Linked DNA regions of Homo sapiens: region 2 is linked to region 1. Evidence: fine-mapped expression QTL. A gene starts in region 1. The other region holds a variant in brackets. All regions are shown on one strand. Distances are between the middles of the regions.

Region 1 (4,388 bases):
TGGTTGGAACTGGAGTCAGAGGAGGCTGCCTGGGATGGATGATAGATATATAGTGGGGCTAGGTGTTGGGAGAAAAAGAAAGGAAAGAAAGAGATTGCAAGAGTGGTTCCATTCACAAAGAAGTTGGGAAGAGAGAGTTTGAGTAGTGGGAAAGGGTGATAGAAGAAAATAGGTTTGGTACCTTCTGCTTTTGCAGTCCCCCTCTCATCCAGGCAGTTGGACATGTAGGGCCCAAGTGCCAAAGAGCCACCAGGGGGAAAGATACATTTGGGGATATTCTCTTTATTATTAATTTCTCATCAAGACTAATGTCTTTATGGTATTTCCTTCTGGTGAACTTCCTGCCCTCCTCTTCTGATGGTCCATTGAGTTTGTGTTAAAATTATGTGAAAGTTGGCCGGGCACGGTGGCTCATGCCTGTAATCCCAGCATTTTCAGGGGCCGGGTCGGGCGGATCACGAGGTCAAGAGATCGAGGCCAACATCCTGGCCAACATGGTGAAACCCTCTCTCTACTAAAAATACAAAAATTAGCTGGCCGTGGTGGCGCGCGCCTGTAGTCCCAGTTACTAGGGAGGCTGAGGCAGGAGAATCACTTGAACCCGGGAGGCGAAGATTGCAGTGAGCTGAGAACATGCCAGTTCACTCCAGCCTGGTAACAGAGCGAGACTCCATCTCAAAGAAACAAACAAAACAAAACAAAAAAATATATATACACACACATATATATACATATATACATATATATACACATATATATGCAAAAGTTTTTGAATTATGAGAAACTACTGACTCTGTGGCTTACAGTGTTATTCGCGAGTGGATGCACTAAGCATAGAACATTGCACTGAGAAATGACTTCGGTGGCTGACAAAGTGGAGACTCAGGCCTCAGAGAGGGAGTCTTTGGTCTTCTCTAAACACATTTTAAAATTCATTAGAGGAATATCATTCATATATTTTGGAAAGTTAATTTGTACTCCATGTGCAGACTGCATTAGAAGGACAGACCTCTTCACAGAGCCAAGTCACAAGACACCTGGACACGGGGTAGTACCCCAGCAGGCAGGTGGGGGTGGGGGACCAGATGCAGCAGGACAAAGGACAAAACAGAGCCTGGTTCGGACTTCCCCAGGAAGGACTCTGCACTCAGCTGCCTTCCAGCCTCTTCTGAATTCCACCAACCCTTCCTTAGGACTTCCTGCCTTGTTTTTTGCTTAATTCACTTTTTGCCAGACTAGACGTTTCCTAGGCTTAGGCAAACACATCATTATCACATGTATTAAAATGCTCCCATAGCCTACATTAATAACTGATTAATAACTGCATCTTGCTGTGAATTTTTATGATCTTGACTTTCAGGTTTTGTATGAATAATTCATTTTGTTCATGTGATTTAGACTTTATTATATTTATATATAATTATGCAAGAGTTTTGTTGCAGTTGCCTAGATTCTGCAGACATTTCATTAAATTTTATTTACTTTGATTTTTCCAGTTTCCTTTCGTTATTTTGGGGCCACTGTTTTTCAGTCTCCAACGTTTTCATAAGCCCTAGGGGATATGACAGCGCTACAGGAATCCAGCCTTATATTCTTAAGAACCTCTCATAGCCCTTCACGTAGGGAGCTCTGATGAATGAATGAAGGAGCGACTGAACGAGTGAATGAATGAGGTGAATAAAGTTTCTTCCAAGTTTTCTCTCCAAGGTCGGTTCTCTTCTCATTCTTCTGGAATCTCAGCCTTGCCTGGAGGCTGGGCAGGAGAGCCTCTCACCCCGCTAACACCAAAACTGCGACCTTGGAGGACCGTGTCCTGCGCCTGGCGCTCGGCCGATCCCGGCAGAGTCCGCCTGGGGCCGGGGTCGGGACAGTGGCCGCAGCGTGGAGCGCAGCCGGGTCCCGGGCCAAACCCTGTGCGCATGGGCGGAGCAGCGCCCTCCCCCGCGTTCCTTCCCCCACTGCAGGTGAGTCGCAGCGCCGCGGCCCCAACCCCGCGCAGCCCCGGGGGTGACGTCAGGACTCTGGACCGCGCTCCGCCCCGCCCCTGCAGGCAACGCTGAGGGCCCGCGACTCCGCGGTGGAACCCCGTCCCGCTGCGGTACATGCCGGCTGCCGCAAGCACAGGGGGCGACCGGGCGCTCGAATGTGCTGCGGCTGCGGCGGCTGCCTGACGCTAGGACGAGGAGTCTGCAGTCAGAGCGCCAGCCTCCTGCCGCGGCCCACCTGCCCCGCGGCCCGCACAGCCAATGTCAGCGCAGCGCGCCGGCCGCCGCGGGGCCCGCACCCGCAGCCTCGCGGGATCGCCGGGCGTTCAGCCAGCCTCAGCTGTCCATCTACGCACGAGCCAGCCAATCCCGCGCCACTGCCCCGGCCGCACCTCCCGGAGCCTATGACGGGCGTAAGAGCCAGCCCATGAGATTGGGGCCTCTGTGGCCTGGGCTGGGAGCGGGAGCCAATGAGCGTCATTCCAGGTGGGTGGAGGGAGCCGGACTCGGGAAGGTAGCTTCGTTCGGGTTGCTAACGTCTTCCCTTGGAGATGGGCGCGCAAACCAACCAGTGGGTCTGGGGGCGGCGGTGATGGGCGTGGAGCTGGCCCAATGAGGGTAGGGGTGGGTGGGGCAGCCCCGAGCAGCAGTGCTAAAGGAGCCCGGCGGAGGCAGCGGTGGGTTTGGGACTGAGGCGCTGGATCTGTGGTCGCGGCTGGGGACGTGCGCCCGCGCCACCATCTTCGGCTGAAGGTGAGAGGTGCGGCTACCCGGGTCCGAGTGCACGGCCCAGGGCTGGGGGACAGTTTGTGGAGGGAGGAATGGCTCCTGGGCTGAGGGGTCCCGGGCGGCTCTGGAGGACAGGAACGGGGGACCGAAGCGGGAGCTGGGGAAGACAGAGGGGCTTCTGAGCTGTAGGGTTTGTGCTGCGGGGACCTTAGGTTAGTTTGAGCAGGGTCCTGGGCTGGGGGCACTGGGACCTCAGTGGGTGGAGATGGAGAGACTCCCGGAGGAGCGGGGAATGAAGTCCTTGTGAAACCCGCGGGGGTCAGGGCCTGGGTGTGCAGGAGGGCGACCCCTGGGGGGCTGGGGGATGGAGATCTGGGGGTGGGGACGTGAGGACCAGGTTCTCGGTGGGTGGGATCCCTGGGGGCGCGAGGTCGAGGGGCTAGTGTCCCGGCGGAGGTCTCGGCGTGCCCCGCGAGCCAGTGTCTGCCTCCCAGGAAGAGAGGGGATTCTAAGCGGGGCTGGAAAGCGCAGTCCCGGCGGTAGGGTGGGGGGGCGCTGGGCAGGAAGGGCCCCTGCGTGGGTTGCTGGGTGGGTTAGGCCTGGCGCGACCGGTCCCCCGCAGCACCAGAGGGGTTCACCATGGGCTTGGAAGGCGGGCGGCGCGCGCCCGACCCGTGGGTGGAGGGACAGGAGGGCATTGGCTCTGCGCGGCCGGGGAAGCGCGCGGCGGGTGAGGGGCTCCGGAGCCGGCCGCGGGCGTGGGGAGGGTCGGACTCCGCCGGCGCCGGGGAAGGAGCGCGGGAGGAGGGCGTCCTGCCGCGCCCTCCGTGGAGCGCCTAGGCCGGGGGTGGACGCCCTGCGAGGCCCAGGCGGTTTGAGGGGGCGAGGCGGGAAATGTGGCGGGGCGCGCTGCAGCAGGACGGCCGGGGGGAGGGTCAGCACTCGCCTCGGGATCCCTTTATTGTGTAAGCGAGCTGGGAATGGCTCGCCGCAGTCTCTTCATTGCCTTCTGCAGTTGGGGGTCACACCCTGATCCCATAAAATCGGACTGGAATTGGTTCGGAGGGAAGTTGAAGCCGCGGAGTCCTGGCATTTGTGGGGGCTTTGTGGGCCTGTGGTGGGCGGATGCGGCCCTGGGAAGCGGGAGGCCCCCAGCCAGGCCTGTTTGGAACTAGGGCCTTAGGAAGGAGGTTGGCGACTCGGCGGGTCAGACCGGGCTGGTGAGGTTTGGATAACGTGGCCTCTGCCTACAGCCGTTATCTCTGTTTCTTTAGGGCCTCTGCAGCTCCCTTCAAGATCACTGCGGTGGATGGAAGGGGGTGGGGTGGGCTGGGGTGGGGTAGGGGAAAGCAGGCGGGGTAGATGCAGACTGCAGATGAAACAAAGACTGCTGTTTTCGCTGAATAATGTAATACCAAACATAATACTTTGGCTTTGCTGAGATTTTGTTTTTTAACGTTGAAACTGAGGATTCTTTGAGTCAGGTTTAATTATTCTTGATAGTATCTCACTCTGGAAAACTTTATAATCTATTTATTGTTTTATCTCCTTCATCAATCTGCCTTTATTAATTATTCTTTGAGTCCCTTGCTTTTGATGTTTAAGTATGCCCTGCCTGTCTCGGGTTCTGGAAAAGTGGCCATTTTATGCATCTCCTTACTTCTGCATCTTAAA
Region 2 (4,388 bases), 200 kb after region 1:
GGCCAGGCGCAGTGGCTCATGCCTGTAATCCCAGCACTTTGGGAAGCCGAGGCAGGCGGATCACGAGGTCAGGAGATCGAGACCATCCTGGCTAACACGGTGAAAACCCGTCTCTACTAAAAATCCAAAAAATTAGCTGGGTGTAGTGGTGGACGCCTGTAGTCCCAGCTACTTGGGAGGCTGAGGCAGGAGAATGGCATGAACCCGGGAGGCGGAGCTTGCAGTGAGCCGAGATCGCGCCACTACACTCCAGCCTGGGCAACAGAGCGAGACTCTGTCTCAAAAAATATATATATATTGGCCTGCCATTAAATATATATATATTTATATTTATATTTATATATAATATATATATTTATATATAAATATATATATATATCTCTTTAAAGGGTAGCCATTTTTCTTCAGTTAATAATGTAAAAAAGACTGCATTAACATGCTTAAAATCCCCAGATCCTCAATTCTTTAGGGATGTACTAAATAAATGGCTGATATCATGGTTACGAAAGTATCCTGACCTTGGCTGGGCACAGTGGCTCACACCTGTAATCTCAGCACTTTGGGAGACCTGGGGCGGGTAGATCACTTGAGGCCAGGAGTCCAAGACTAGCCTGGCCAACATGGTGAAACCCCGTCTCTACTAAAAATATAGAAAAATTAGCTGAATGTGATGGCATGTGCCTGTAATCCCAGCTACTCAGGTGGGTGAAGCTTGAGAACCGCTTGAACCTGGGAGGTGGAAGTTGCAGTGAGCCAAGATCATGCCACTGGGTGACAGAGCAAGCCTGTTTCAAAAAAAAAAAAAAAGGTGTCTTGACCTTGAGGGAGCTTACGTTGAGAAATAAAGTTTATATCTTTTAATTTTATCTTTTAATTCCATTTTTCTATGAACTTTCCGAAGTTCTCTTGTATGCACTGGCAACTGTGCTAAACACTTGGTCTGCTTAATTTCATCCTCACAGTAATCCCATGAGATAGGTAGTGTTATTCCCATTTTTTAAATGAGGAAACAGACTCAGCAAGATGAAGTTTCCCAAAGTCTCTCAACTAGAAAGATGAGGCCTCAAGCCTCAAACCCACCCTGTTCGAATTGTCTAACTCTCCAGAAAACACACTATTAACAACTATTATATTGCTACTCAAGAAGGGGGAGTATTAGCAATTACTACCATGTATTGGGCTAGAGCACTGTGCTAAGTGCTTTACATGCTTTCCCTCCCTCAGTCCTCACAATGAGCCTGTGAGGCTGTGATTATTGCTTCCATTGTACATATTGTAAACTGAGACCCAGAGGAGCTAGGGCTTAAACTCAAGTAGGTCTTACTTCAAGGCCAGTGGCCTGGGACAATGGACTGGTACAGCTCGTTCAGGCTCTGGGGCTCTGCTTCCCTGGGTGAAGCTGTGCTCTGGCTGATGAGATCACAGACAGGGAGGGGATGAATGAAGGCTTTCCTGTGGACCTGGTGCCAAGACAAAACAGTCCTATCCCAAGAGGAAAAAAATTAATAAGGGCTGCGGCTCTCTCCCTGCCTCCTGGCTGAGGTGCTGGGAAACGCACTGAGTCATCTAATGGCAGGCCAGGCCCCTCGGAAAATGTTGGCATCATCTTCCAAGCTGCCACCCCTCCCACGCGGCCTGGACCCAAAACTGGTGTTTGTCAGGACTGGACTATTGGCCTTATCTTAATGAACGGGCTTTGCCTGGCAGGATTCTAAGAGGTGCCGAAGGGCCCAAACTGATGTAATTCCTTCCCCCTTGTGGTTGAGCTTTCTCCCTGGGAGATGGGCCCAGGGGCTGGGCATGGCAATTAACCATCAGCAACCTTTGCCCCAGCCCCTGCTTCCAATATACCAAATCCAGAAAAAATAAAGTGGAAAGGAAGATGGAAATCAGCCCCGAAAGGGAACAGAAGTTATAAAACCAGCCCTTGTGGTGGTAAAAAAGGTGAGTGAGGGCTGCCCTACCCTCTGCCTTTATAAATCATTAGGAAGGGGTTTGCC[G/A]AGGCATGGGTCCCAGTACAAGGTCTTTCTTGGATTGAGCCAAAGAGGTTAATGTCACAGTCCCTGAGAGCATGCATGAGGATCCCAACATCTCTCCTGTCACAAACTCTGAGATTCAGGAAACAGAGGCCAGATTCCACCACTGGGAAGGGTGGAGGTTGACCGGCTACCCTAAGAGAGATCTGGGTACAAGCCCGAACCCTAGCTAGTAAAGATGCTGGACTTCGGCCACATCACACACTCACAGAAGGTGATATGTAATGCACACAGGCCCACTGTGGAAATTCTGACGAGATGGGGCATACTTAACTCTACTGAATCAGGTGAGCAAGACATCTCAAAATCAGCTTCAACCTAATCTCTCTCTATTCCTTTGGCCAGCATTTTTTGCTAATCTCTAAGGGTATAGATCTAGCTGGGCAAGGGACACCCACTGACTGGCCAGTTGCTAATGGTCTGGCAGATATGTCCACCAGATGTCCCACCACCACCTCCAGCTCTACATGCCGAAACCCCAAACAGATTTTCCTTTGCCCCAACAGAAATTTCCAAAACAATTTTCATGTTTCTGCCAATGGTGCCATCATTCCAGTCAGTGAAGCACAAGGCACTCATCAAATCCCCCTAATCATTTCCCTCCCCAGCTTGCATCTCACGCATGTGGTCACCAAAGCCCAAAGACTTTCCCTTCCTAAACTCAAGTAAATCTAGTCATATTTCAGTACTTTCTTCCCACATCGCCCATAATCCAAAGTTTCTTATTTGTCTGTCCCTCTCTCCCCAAACTTCTCTCCCTCGAATTTCTTCTTGTTTCAGCCCAGCAGTCCACACATAACCATAAGAATAATCTTTCTAAAATCTCACTGTATGCAGAGCATCCCTGCCTCCAAAACTTGTTTTGGCATCTTGTTACCTTTGTGATAAGGAACAAAGTAGTCTCATACTCAAGGCCTTCCCAAAGCAACTCCAGCCCACTTCTACGGTCTATATCCTATGGATCACCTCTCTAGGTCTGGCCAGACCCACCAGCATGGTCCCCCAAATAGATGATTCCCTTCCTCTATGGGCCTATCTTGTTGACTTCCCCTGCCCTTTACACTGCAGCTGCTGCCTAGGCTTGGCCAACCCACCTTCTCCTCTGCCTTTTGAAGTCTCACTCATATGCTAGCTCCTCCAGGAAGCCTTCCCTGATACTCAAAGTCCCAAAGTGAGCACTCCTTCCTCTGAGCTCACATGGAGCTCTACACAGTTCACAAGAGACTTATTAAACATGGCCTTTTGGTTACAGAGATGTCCAATCTCCCCCAAGAAACCAAAACTCACTGAGTGTAGGGACAGTGTTGATTGTCTTAATATATCCCCAGCAACAGGCACTTAGCAAACACTCATTTAATATGCTTCAACGAAAGTGAAAGAATGAACCAATGGTCTGGTGGCTATAACTTCAAAGGCAAGACTGACAGAACATTCTGGAAAATACCCCAAATCCTGAAAAAAGTCACCATAGACAGAGATTTTCGCTGGTATGAAAGGCTGAACTTAGATGATATAGGTTACAAAGGAACTAAGATTTGGGTCATAGGCAACTATGCCTTTTCTCTAGCCTAAATCTTAAACCCAGGCCATAGCGTCTATAATCCCTAATGCAATATCCTTTGCTTTTGTAATTAAATAATATTAATAATAATGTGTTTTTAAAATCTTAAAAATAGGCCGGGCGCGGTGGCTCATGCCTGTAATCCCAGCACTTTGGGAGGCCAAGGCAGGCAGATCACAAGGTCAGGAGATCGAGACCATCTTGGCTAACACGGTGAAACCCCGTCTCTACTAAAAATACAAAAAATTAGCCGGGCGTGGTGGCAGGAGCCCGTAGTCCCAGCTACTCGGGAGGCTGAGGCAGGAGAATGGTGTGAACCTGGGAGGCGGAGCTTGCAGTGAGCCGAGATCATGCCACTGCAGTCTGGCCTGGGTGAAAGAGACTCCATCTCAAAAAAACAAAAATCTTAAAAATATACACTTGGGGCCAGGCATGGGGGCTCACACCTATAATCCCAGCACTTTGGGAGGCCAGGGTGGTCAGATCACGAGGTCAGGAGTTCGAGACCAGCCTGGCCAGTATGGTGAAACCCCATGTCTACTAAAAATACAAAAAGTAGCCGGGTGTGGTGGCACATGCCTGTAATCCCAGCTACTCGGGAGGCTGAGGCAGGAGAATTGCTTGAACCTGGGAGGCGGAGGTTGCAGTGAGCCAAGGTCACACCACTACACTCCAGCCTGGGCAACAGAATGAGACTCTGTCTCGGAAAAAAAAAAAAAAAAAATACACACACACACACACACACACACACACACACACACACCACACACACTTGAGCCTTGAGGCGAGAA

Direction of the effects. Alleles are on the strand shown, and positions count from the first base shown. SD is a standard deviation of normalised expression in the study named.
For the expression in sigmoid colon of the gene that starts at base 2,667 in region 1, allele A in region 2 goes with a lower level than allele G (small effect, 0.29 SD a copy in GTEx).

Evidence for each region. PIP is the estimated chance that this variant, and not a neighbour inherited with it, causes the effect.
Region 2: its variant is the best candidate, but not a certain one, in a credible set for the expression of MYH10 in sigmoid colon (GTEx, PIP 0.79).

The regions. Positions count from the first base shown.
Region 1 is chr17:8,629,004-8,633,391 of GRCh38, reverse strand. MYH10 (myosin heavy chain 10) reads left to right here and starts at 2,667. Exons shown (of 43, transcript NM_001256012.3): 1 at 2,667-2,738. RefSeq lists enhancers at 967-1,261, 1,960-2,737, 2,738-3,515, 3,516-4,294 and a silencer at 1,796-2,475.
Region 2 is chr17:8,428,296-8,432,683 of GRCh38, reverse strand. It overlaps a transcript of NDEL1 not described here. Among named protein-coding and RNA genes, the nearest start is that of NDEL1, 5.4 kb to the left of the region's middle. The variant G/A (reference allele first, on the strand shown) is at 2,001.